3 separate regions of the Homo sapiens genome follow, and all the other regions are reported to be linked to region 1. The links are microRNA targets in miRTarBase. Many come from high-throughput screens and were not tested one by one. Region 1 holds a microRNA gene; each other region holds the end of a gene's coding sequence.

Region 1 (3,000 bases):
AAAAATCAACCCCAGAGAAGCAGAAAACATCTAGGTGGCCCAGCCTGGTAAGTGGCAGGAGATGGTAGTAGAGCTGTCTCTGCCTGTCACCTTCAGCCTCTTCTTGCAAGCCCCTGGTGGTCCCATATTGAGGTAACAATGCCCATTCTTCTTCCAGACAGTGTAGAAACAGTGACAATGTGGTTATGGCCCCCTGGAAAGTGAGCAGTTGATGAGCTCTGCTTATGGCTGCTCTCCTCCATGGCAGAATGCATTCCTGCAGGATGAGGTCATGGAGCCAAGGAAGGTCAGGGTGTGGGGGGGCTTCCTGGGTCAGAGCTCCAGAGCAGTGCTGCTCCCCCTGCCCTCCTCCTTAGGTCTCCCATCACTGGTGGTCTCAGAAATCTCTGAAGATTTCAGAAATCTTGAATCCCTTCCCTGGTGTGAATGCAAAGGGAAGAGTCTGTTCCTGTAAAGTAGTTTGCAGATTGGTGGAACTGAGAGAACCCAGACCCTTCCCCGTTTCCCTCGACCTTTCCATCTCTGGACCCCATGCAGACTATGCTTGGGTGGTGACACAGAAGAATTTAGTGTTTGGTGGACCCGTTTCTGGAAGTGATGGATGCTGACAGCTGGCACTTAACAGTTATCAAAAATAACATTAACTGGAGTAGGCTCTGTGCCACTTAGAGCTTAATGACTCACTGACTTCACCCCAAATCCCCATGAACTAGCATTATTATTAGCCCTATGTTGCAGGTGAGGAGACTAAGGCTCATCCAGTTAGAACATGATGGCTGAAACCTACATTCAAACTCTGGTCTGTTTGAATCTAGAACTCTTAGCTTCCCCCCAGCGACTGTGTTAGAACAGAGGAATCATCAGTTCAATTTTCACCTCCCTCCTAAGCCTTCGTGGCTCTAGACGTATGGTTATAAAGGTTGTTCACTGCTCAAGGGCCCAGGAGGGTTTGGGGCTGGTGGATAGGGGCCAAAATACAGCCCAGGGGTGCCATTTTTCTAATTCTCACCAAGGCCCTATACTGACTAGCAGCGGCTCTACCCGATACCATCCAGGGCCTTTTCAGAATTCTGAAGGCACCCACGGTGCTGGCTACTCACACACCTGGCCCCCCTTAACCATGGCTGCCTTGCACTGTGACCCAATTGGTTCCCATGACAAAACCTGTTATTCCCATAACTCACCCAACACTTTTTTGCCCCTAGGCTCTTGCTCCTTTGGTTCCCTCTGCCTGGAATGGCCTTCTCTCCCGAGCCGCCTCGCCTGGTTCTATTAGGTTGATGCAAAAGTCATCGCGGTTTTAATGGTAAAAACCGTGATGACTTTTGCACCGACCTAGTATTTCACAAAACCTACATTTCCTTTAAAACCCAACCTGATGCCTACTCCTTCAAAATGCCTTTCATATCCCACAGTTCGACTTCATCTCACTCTGCCTCCTCTCACAGGGCTTTGTGTTCGTGCTGGATGGAGCCCATCATACTCAGCCTCGCAATAAAGGCCACCTATCTAGTGAGTGAGCATTTACTAGGCGCAGGACTCTGGGCTAAACGCTGTCCATACTTCATCTCCTTGATTCTTCACGTCACAGATGTCATTATGCCCATTTCACAGAGGAAGAAACTGAGGCTTGGAGGACTTAAAGCCTTGTTTCAGCAGGAAACGGAATAAGGCGTTCTGATTTTCAAGCTGTCTCCTATTAGGGCTGGTTTCCCCTAGATGTCATGAGTAGGTGTGAAGTGTGAGCTACTTGAAGGCAGAAGCCAGGGGGGTCCCCCGCAATCCCGGAGGCGGGCTTCTGAAAATGTTTAGCCCAGGAAGGAGGGCTGCCCTGGCCCGCAGCTTTCCGCCCCTTCCCAGGTGAGCTGCAACTCCAAAGCTCCCAAGCAGGCCCTTCACCCACGCGGGCCCCAGCAGCTCCTTGGGAAACAGGATCGCTGCTCTGAGGCCGCCCACAGAGAGACCCTCGGAGGGCGCCACGCAAGCGAAGGGCAGAAACGACTCGGGGGGCAGGGGCAGGGCGCTCCAACCACACCCAGGCGCCGCCAGCTTGTTTACGCCTCTCCGCCGCGTCCCCCCGCCCGCCAGTCACGTGACCGCCCGCCCCGCCCCCTCGGGCTCTCGCGTGGCTCCTCCCGCCGCGCCGGCCCTTCTTTTTGCCTCCTTCGCGGAGTCACAAGATCTCTTCGCAGCCTCCTTTCGGATCCTTCCGCCCGGCCCCGCCCCCCTCCATAAAAACCCTCCTTACTTTTTTTCTCGTCCAACCCACATCGTCAGTTATGAGTGGAAGAGCCTCTTCCTTCCGGCGGGGCTGCCGAGCGCGGCCGTCTATCCTTCCTTTCGAGAAGGAGGGGAGGTCCGGAGGGGGACTCTTTTTCGTGGCGGAGGCCGCCGTCGGCCTTGGCCCTTTCACGACGGGGGAGGTGCTGTACGTCCAAGATGGCGGCGCCCTGTAGGCTGGAGGGACTGTGAGGTAAACAGCTGAGGGGGAGGAGACGGTGGGTGAGTATGGGGGTGTCTCCCCCTCCTTTTTATGGGGGCTTCCTGGGGCAGCCCCGGCACCATGACTCCAGCCGGGGAGGCTCGGAGGGGCTGGAGCAAGAGACTCACTTGCTTGGTAGGGATCCCGGGGAAGGGGGGTTCGGAGAGCTCTCCCCTCCCTCTTATTACACGCTATCTCCGGCTGGCCCGGCCGGGACTGGCGGGTCCCTGGGGAGGAGAGGCGAGCCGGACGGAGCACTTCGCCCCTCCTTGGCCCCCGAGGGGACGGCTGCACCCTGGGCCTCGGTCCCTCGGGCAGGGGCGAGGTGGGCCCCTTCGTCAGTCCCTCACTTGGTGGGGTGACAGGTTCACGCTAGGTGCGGAGGGCAGGGTAGAGACGCTTGGCGGGAGGGGAAGGGTCGCGAGGGTGGGGCTGGTCCCAGAACTTAAAGAGAGGGGTCGGGGTATAGGGGCGTGGAGAATGAATGGAGGTCGCCTGTGGGGATCAAGGACTCGCCT
Region 2 (3,000 bases), not on the chromosome of region 1:
ACCCTCACTGTCCGGCTCCTCACTCCCTGCATCAGGCTCCTTCCCACCCTCACTGTCCTGCGCCTCACTCCCTGCATCAGGCCACTTCCCACCCTCACTGTCCTGTGCCTCACTCCCTGCATCAGGCTCCTTCCCACCCTCACTGTCCTGCGCCTCACTCCCTGCATCAGGCTCCTTCCCACCCTCACTGTCCTGCGCCTCACTCCCTGCATCAGGCCGCCTCCCACCCTCACTGTCCTGCTCCTCACTCCCTGCATCAGGCTCCTTCCCACCCTCACTGTCCTGCGCCTCACTCCCTGCATCAGGCCGCCTCCCACCCTCACTGTCCTGCGCCTCACTCCCTGCATCAGGCTCCTTCCCACCCTCACTGTCCGGCTCCTCACTCCCTGCATCAGGCCACCTCCCACCCTCACTGTCCTGCTCCTCACTCCCTGCATCAGGCTCCTTCCCACCCTCACTGTCCGGCTCCTCACTCCCTGCATCAGGCTCCTTCCCACCCTCACTGTCCTGCGCCTCACTCCCTGCATCAGGCCCCTTCCCACCCTCACTGTCCTGCGCCTCACTCCCTGCATCAGGCTCCTTCCCACCCTCACTGTCCTGCGCCTCACTCCCTGCATCAGGCCGCCTCCCACCCTCACTGTCCTGCGCCTCACTCCCTGCATCAGGCCACTTCCCACCCTCACTGTCCTGCTCCTCACTCCCTGCATCAGGCTCCTTCCCACCCTCACTGTCCTGCGCCTCACTCCCTGCATCAGGCTCCTTCCCACCCTCACTGTCCTGCGCCTCACTCCCTGCATCAGGCTCCTTCCCACCCTCACTGTCCTGCGCCTCACTCCCTGCATCAGGCCGCTTCCCGCCCTCACACCTGCTCCTCACTCCCTGCATCAGGCCACTTCCCACCCTCACTGTCCTGCTCCTCACTCCCTGCATCAGGCTCCTTCCCACCCTCACTGTCCGGCTCCTCACTCCCTGCATCAGGCTCCTTCCCACCCTCACTGTCCTGCTCCTCACTCCCTGCATCAGGCTCCTTCCCACCCTCACTGTCCTGCGCCTCACTCCCTGCATCAGGCTCCTTCCCACCCTCACTGTCCTGCGCCTCACTCCCTGCATCAGGCCGCCTCCCACCCTCACTGTCCGGCTCCTCACTCCCTGCATCAGGCTCCTTCCCACCCTCACTGTCCTGCGCCTCACTCCCTGCATCAGGCTCCTTCCCACCCTCACTGTCCTGCGCCTCACTCCCTGCATCAGGCTCCTTCCCACCCTCACTGTCCTGCGCCTCACTCCCTGCATCAGGCTCCTTCCCACCCTCACTGTCCTGCGCCTCACTCCCTGCATCAGGCTCCTTCCCACCCTCACTGTCCTGCGCCTCACTCCCTGCATCAGGCTCCTTCCCACCCTCACTGTCCTGCGCCTCACTCCCTGCATCAGGCTCCTTCCCACCCTCACTGTCCTGCGCCTCACTCCCTGCATCAGGCCGCCTCCTACCCTCACTGTCCTGCTCCTCACTCCCTCCATCAGGCCCCTTCCCACCCTCACTGTCCTGGAAACTGCTGGGTCTCGACTTTCCCCACCCTGACACCACCAGCAAGATAAGCCTCAGGCTGGGCGTGGTGGCTCATGCCTGTAATCCCAACACTTTGGGAGGCCGAGGCAGGAGGATCGCTTGAGCCCAGGAGTTGGAGACCAGCTTGGGCAACATAGTCAGACTCCATCTCTATTGAAAAAAAAAAAAAAGACAAGCCTCAGTTCACCCCATGGCTCTTCCAAAGGATTTATTGGTCCTATTTACATCTATTGCAAATTGTGAGAAGGCAGCAGGGGCCAACCCCTGGACCTCATCTCTGTCTAGAATGTGAGGTCGCAGGGATGCTTAAGTCTTCCTCTGGCAGAGACCCGAGGTGCAGAGATGATTCTTCTCACCCCTTCTCTCAGGGTCGTGGAGCCCCAGCAGGGGTTCAGGGCCCAGAGGCTGCCCCCTCAGCTGAAGGCACAAACACTGTGGTAGGGGTGGGCAGACAACGCATGGACTCACTCCTGGCAGGCGCCACTGGCCAAGTGCACCTTTTCCCCCTGCTCCTAGCCTCCTTCTTCCTTCCCGTCCCGGTCCCACACTGGCCAGGGCCTGGATGGGTGGCCACTTAAACCCCAGACCCAAGCCCTTAACTCCTGGACCACGGCCAGCCTTCCTTAGGCTGGAATCCAAGCACCATCAGTGCCCTGGACCAGGCCAGCTTCCCTGTCCTAGAGGGATGGGACAGAGAGTGCCCAGCGGGGGCTGAGGGGCTAGAGACCGGCTGGGCAGGGCCAGTCTCCCTTCCCCTTCCCGAGCTTCCCTGTCCTCATGTGGACCCAGAGGGCAGAGCTGGGGAGAAGTGAAGGTAGCAACGCTTCCTCCTGCTCTTAACTTCCTGCTTGCTAGGAGCCCTGTGTCCCCAAGCCATGAATGAGACCCCTCTGGCAGGCTTGGTGGCTCTGGTGATTCAGGGGCCAGGACTCCCCCACTCCATTTGCAGGCCCTAGTTGGCAGGCCATGTGGGCACCCAGGGCGTGGGACCCAGGGCCTCCCTGGAGGGAGCTGCTGCTCAGGGAACAGGGTGAGTGGACACGCGCCCGCAGATGTCTTCCCACCCTTGCCCGGCCAGCTCCTGCCTCAGTCTATGCCAGGAGGCGGATAACCCCGTTGTCTGAGCCCAGCAGGAGGTGGCGTTTAGTGGGCAGCAAGGCCAGGCTGGTGAGCGTGCCGCGGAAGTTCTCAGAGCTGAGCTTCGTGGTGGCCTGCGAGGGTGGCTCAAGCAGGGAGCAGACGCCAATCTTGTTGGACACGGTGCCAGTGACCACCTCGCTGCCGTACAGGTCAAAGGTGTGGATGGGGTCGGATGCTGACTTGTAGTGATGGGTGGGCTTCTGCTCCAGCTCCTTCCAGACGGTCAAGGAATGGTCAGAGGAGGAGCTGACCAGGACGCTGCCCTCCACCGCCTGTCCCGGGAGAGGAGAGCCTCA
Region 3 (3,000 bases), not on the chromosome of region 1:
TCAGCTGTGTTTATCAAAAAGAAAGCTTCACATGGCATTTAGACAGAATTCTACTTGGTTAAATAGTTTATGCATCACCTTAGGAAAATAAGTATTACTTCTCTTTTTAAAATGCAAACTGTTAGGTTTATAATACCATTTGAAGAATTTTCCCTCTCTCTTATTTTCTCTTTTAACAACTTCTTTTTTTCCCTTCAGAGTTATAGAAAATGGAGAGAAAAATCGAATGACCTATCAGAGTATAGCAATTGTTTTTGGTCCCACTCTATTAAAACCAGAAAAAGAGACTGGTAATATAGCAGTTCATACTGTGTACCAGAATCAGATTGTAGAATTAATTCTTCTGGAACTGAGTTCCATCTTCGGACGTTGATTCTTACTGAAGACAACCTGTGGAATAGAAGCTGGATTCCATCAGATTTCAAATGTTTATACACAATGTATTTTATTTTTTGGACCAAGCAGTGACTCTTTGATTTTGCACTTTTTTTTTGAGGGATCAGAAGGGAAGGGGAGAGTCGAGATGTGTGTTAGGCCCTCATATTTGCTGCTTTGTTGCAAGTTGATATAACTGCGTGTAATTATGAATTCATTTTATCCTGAATGTTTGCATTTCATACTCTGAATTTCAGTAAAAATCAAAACTTAAAATTCTAACCAGTCATATACACTGGATAATTTGGTAAGAAAACTGTATTTTTTTTCCCTGAAATTGGATAATGTACTTTCTTCTCAAGATTCATGACTTGATAGAACAATACTTTCAGTTATGTTGCAAAGGCTCTTGGGCATTTTAAACAAAATGAAGTATATCCATTTTGAAACCTGTGTATTTCTTTTTCGGGGTTTCTGCATGCAGTGGCAGTCTTAAGTGCCAAAATTCATTATAACCCCAAAATAACCCCTTGATGAAGGCTTGCTGTCTTTTACTGTGTTACACAGCATCCTTACTGGATATCTTAGTTGCTTGTTTGGGCAGCACACTAATATTACTTAAAACACTGTGATATACTGGAGTTTTAGTTAGCGGAAGTCAGTTCAGGGCATTTTAGGGCTGTCTTGCTATACTGAATTGTAGCTAACAATCCTAATTATATCTAGTACCATACTGAGTTATTGGTATGACCCTGTGGAAACACACATTATTTTATGTAAATATAGGCTAAAGACTTAATGTCCTTTAGCTTGTGTATATAATTGTGTTGTATAGTCTCAGAGTACATTCTAACCCTACATTTCTAATCATTGTTATTGGTAATCTTTTCTGTGAATATTAGGTTTCCTCCAGAAATAGTCCGTTATTTGGGAAAGTTAACTGTGTGCACTTTTAGATATTAACTACATTTACAGGCAAATCACTGTAATGAGAATGGTACTGGAAAAATACTGAATAGACTTGCTAAATGGCACATGCACTACAAGAGGAACCTTTTGGGTTATTTAATATGTACAGAAAACATTAGAAAAAATTTATTACAGAATTCTAATTCCAGTATGAATAGTGGAAACCCATCTGTAAATTAGATGGATGTTGGATGGAAAATGACATTGCTAAATTTGAGAATTTCTTTTTACCTACTAATGTAGATTGCTTTGTATAATAAAACACAGGGTTTGGAAGGTTTTGTTACAGGGAGCATGGTCTGTTGAAGATTTTTAAAATGTATTTTTCTAGATTAACTTCTGTACATGAAATGTCTAATAAAACTATAAGAGGTTTAGAGATTTTTCCATTGGAAATGTGCATTTTGGTTTCTAATTTTTTTGTTTTTTCATTTACTGGCATACTGTTATACCTCATTTTTAAAAATCAACTGAATCCAATATTTCCTGTGGCAAATAACACTTTCCTCATTTCATACCTTTTCTCCTCTCTTCCATGCCAACATTTCTCCACCCACAACGTACACTTTTTATTTCTCCATCAATATTTGAAAGCGAGTGATTTGTGACCAGGATTTTTTTTTCTTAGGGTTGCATTTATAATTTACAGATTGCCTTCCTTGGGAACAAGTATTTTTTTGTATGATCTGTCTAAAAACCTCTCACCTGAATTTTGTGGTAGAAAGTCTGTATTTGTTGTTGTGAGCGTGTTAAATTGATAACAAACCAAACTACTTGATAGCTAAAGCAGATTGTTTCGGGTGGGGAGAAAAAGCCCTAAATCAGAATGTTTATATTTGCCTAAAGATGTCCTTAATAATACAATATGCTTTAGATCTTGCTTATTTAGTGATTGTATACCAGGAAAACAATTAGACTCAAATCAGTGATGTTCTTGTTCTTGGTGTTCATGAACATATATCAAAGATTAAAATTGTCCTGTGTTTCTTGTTTCAAGGTACGTGTGTGTGTGTGTGTGTGTGTGTGTGTGTGTGTGTGAAGTCTTAAATGTTTTATTAGTCTACAGCTAATCAGTTTATTGTAATATTGTATGTACAGTGAGATTAATGTCTTGCGTTTTCATCCTTTGTGAATTAAAAATTCTCACTTGTTTTGTAATAACAAAGCTAGTAATATTTTCCTGTCTTGACAGCTTGGTTTTATAGTAGAAAATATATTAAAAGCTGAAATAAATTATCAGTGGAATTTTATTTGTTAGTAAGTCTTCCTTCATAATGTCATTGAAAAAGGTAGTTGCAGATTTAGAAAAGAAAGTATATTTAAATACATTGTCACATTCCAATTAGAAGAAAAACACTTATTTAAATTTTATAGAAATAAGAAATTTTACCCTTTACTCTGGAGAAAGTACGTTAATTATTAAATAATCTCCAAAAAATGATGTTTATATTTTAGATAGAGACAAATCTATAAATTGTTTTTATGTGAAAAGCACAAATGAAATAATTTGGTGAAACTTTGGACTTAGTGGTAGATGGGTTGTGCGTTTATAACATACACACAAACGTGTGTGTGTGCTAAGTGTTTGTGCACGCCGTTGCTTACATACAAGTGAAAACTCACCAATAATGCAGATACATGGAGACCTTTTTACTA

The links. Region 1 holds the annotated microRNA hsa-miR-548aw (GUGCAAAAGUCAUCACGGUU, at 1,312-1,331, opposite strand). A microRNA usually pairs through its seed, bases 2 to 8, with sites in the 3' UTR of a target mRNA and lowers its output. Matches are read on the target gene's strand: a 7mer-m8 pairs with bases 2 to 8, a 7mer-A1 pairs with bases 2 to 7 and ends in A, and an 8mer does both.
Region 2: the mRNA of WDR81 is a reported target of hsa-miR-548aw. Seed matches in the 3' UTR shown: 7mer-A1 at 1,795-1,801.
Region 3: the mRNA of ARHGAP12 is a reported target of hsa-miR-548aw. Seed matches in the 3' UTR shown: 7mer-m8 at 477-483.

The regions. Positions count from the first base shown.
Region 1 is chr9:132,944,045-132,947,044 of GRCh38, reverse strand. MIR548AW (microRNA 548aw) reads right to left here and starts at 1,338; the gene lies at 1,274-1,338. It overlaps TSC1 (TSC complex subunit 1), which reads left to right and starts at 2,429. Exons shown (of 23, transcript NM_000368.5): 1 at 2,429-2,502. It also overlaps a transcript of GFI1B not described here. RefSeq lists enhancers at 1,712-1,851, 2,212-2,511, 1,824-2,557 and silencers at 2,032-2,111, 2,642-2,701, 2,762-2,821.
Region 2 is chr17:1,737,341-1,740,340 of GRCh38, reverse strand. WDR81 (WD repeat domain 81) reads right to left here. Exons shown (of 10, transcript NM_001163809.2): 10 at 1,756-2,976. The coding sequence ends at 2,656. Among named protein-coding and RNA genes, the nearest start is that of SERPINF2, 4.0 kb to the left of the region's middle.
Region 3 is chr10:31,805,031-31,808,030 of GRCh38, reverse strand. It overlaps ARHGAP12 (Rho GTPase activating protein 12), which reads left to right. Exons shown (of 20, transcript NM_018287.7): 20 at 199-2,633. The coding sequence ends at 373. Among named protein-coding and RNA genes, the nearest start is that of MACORIS, 99 kb to the right of the region's middle.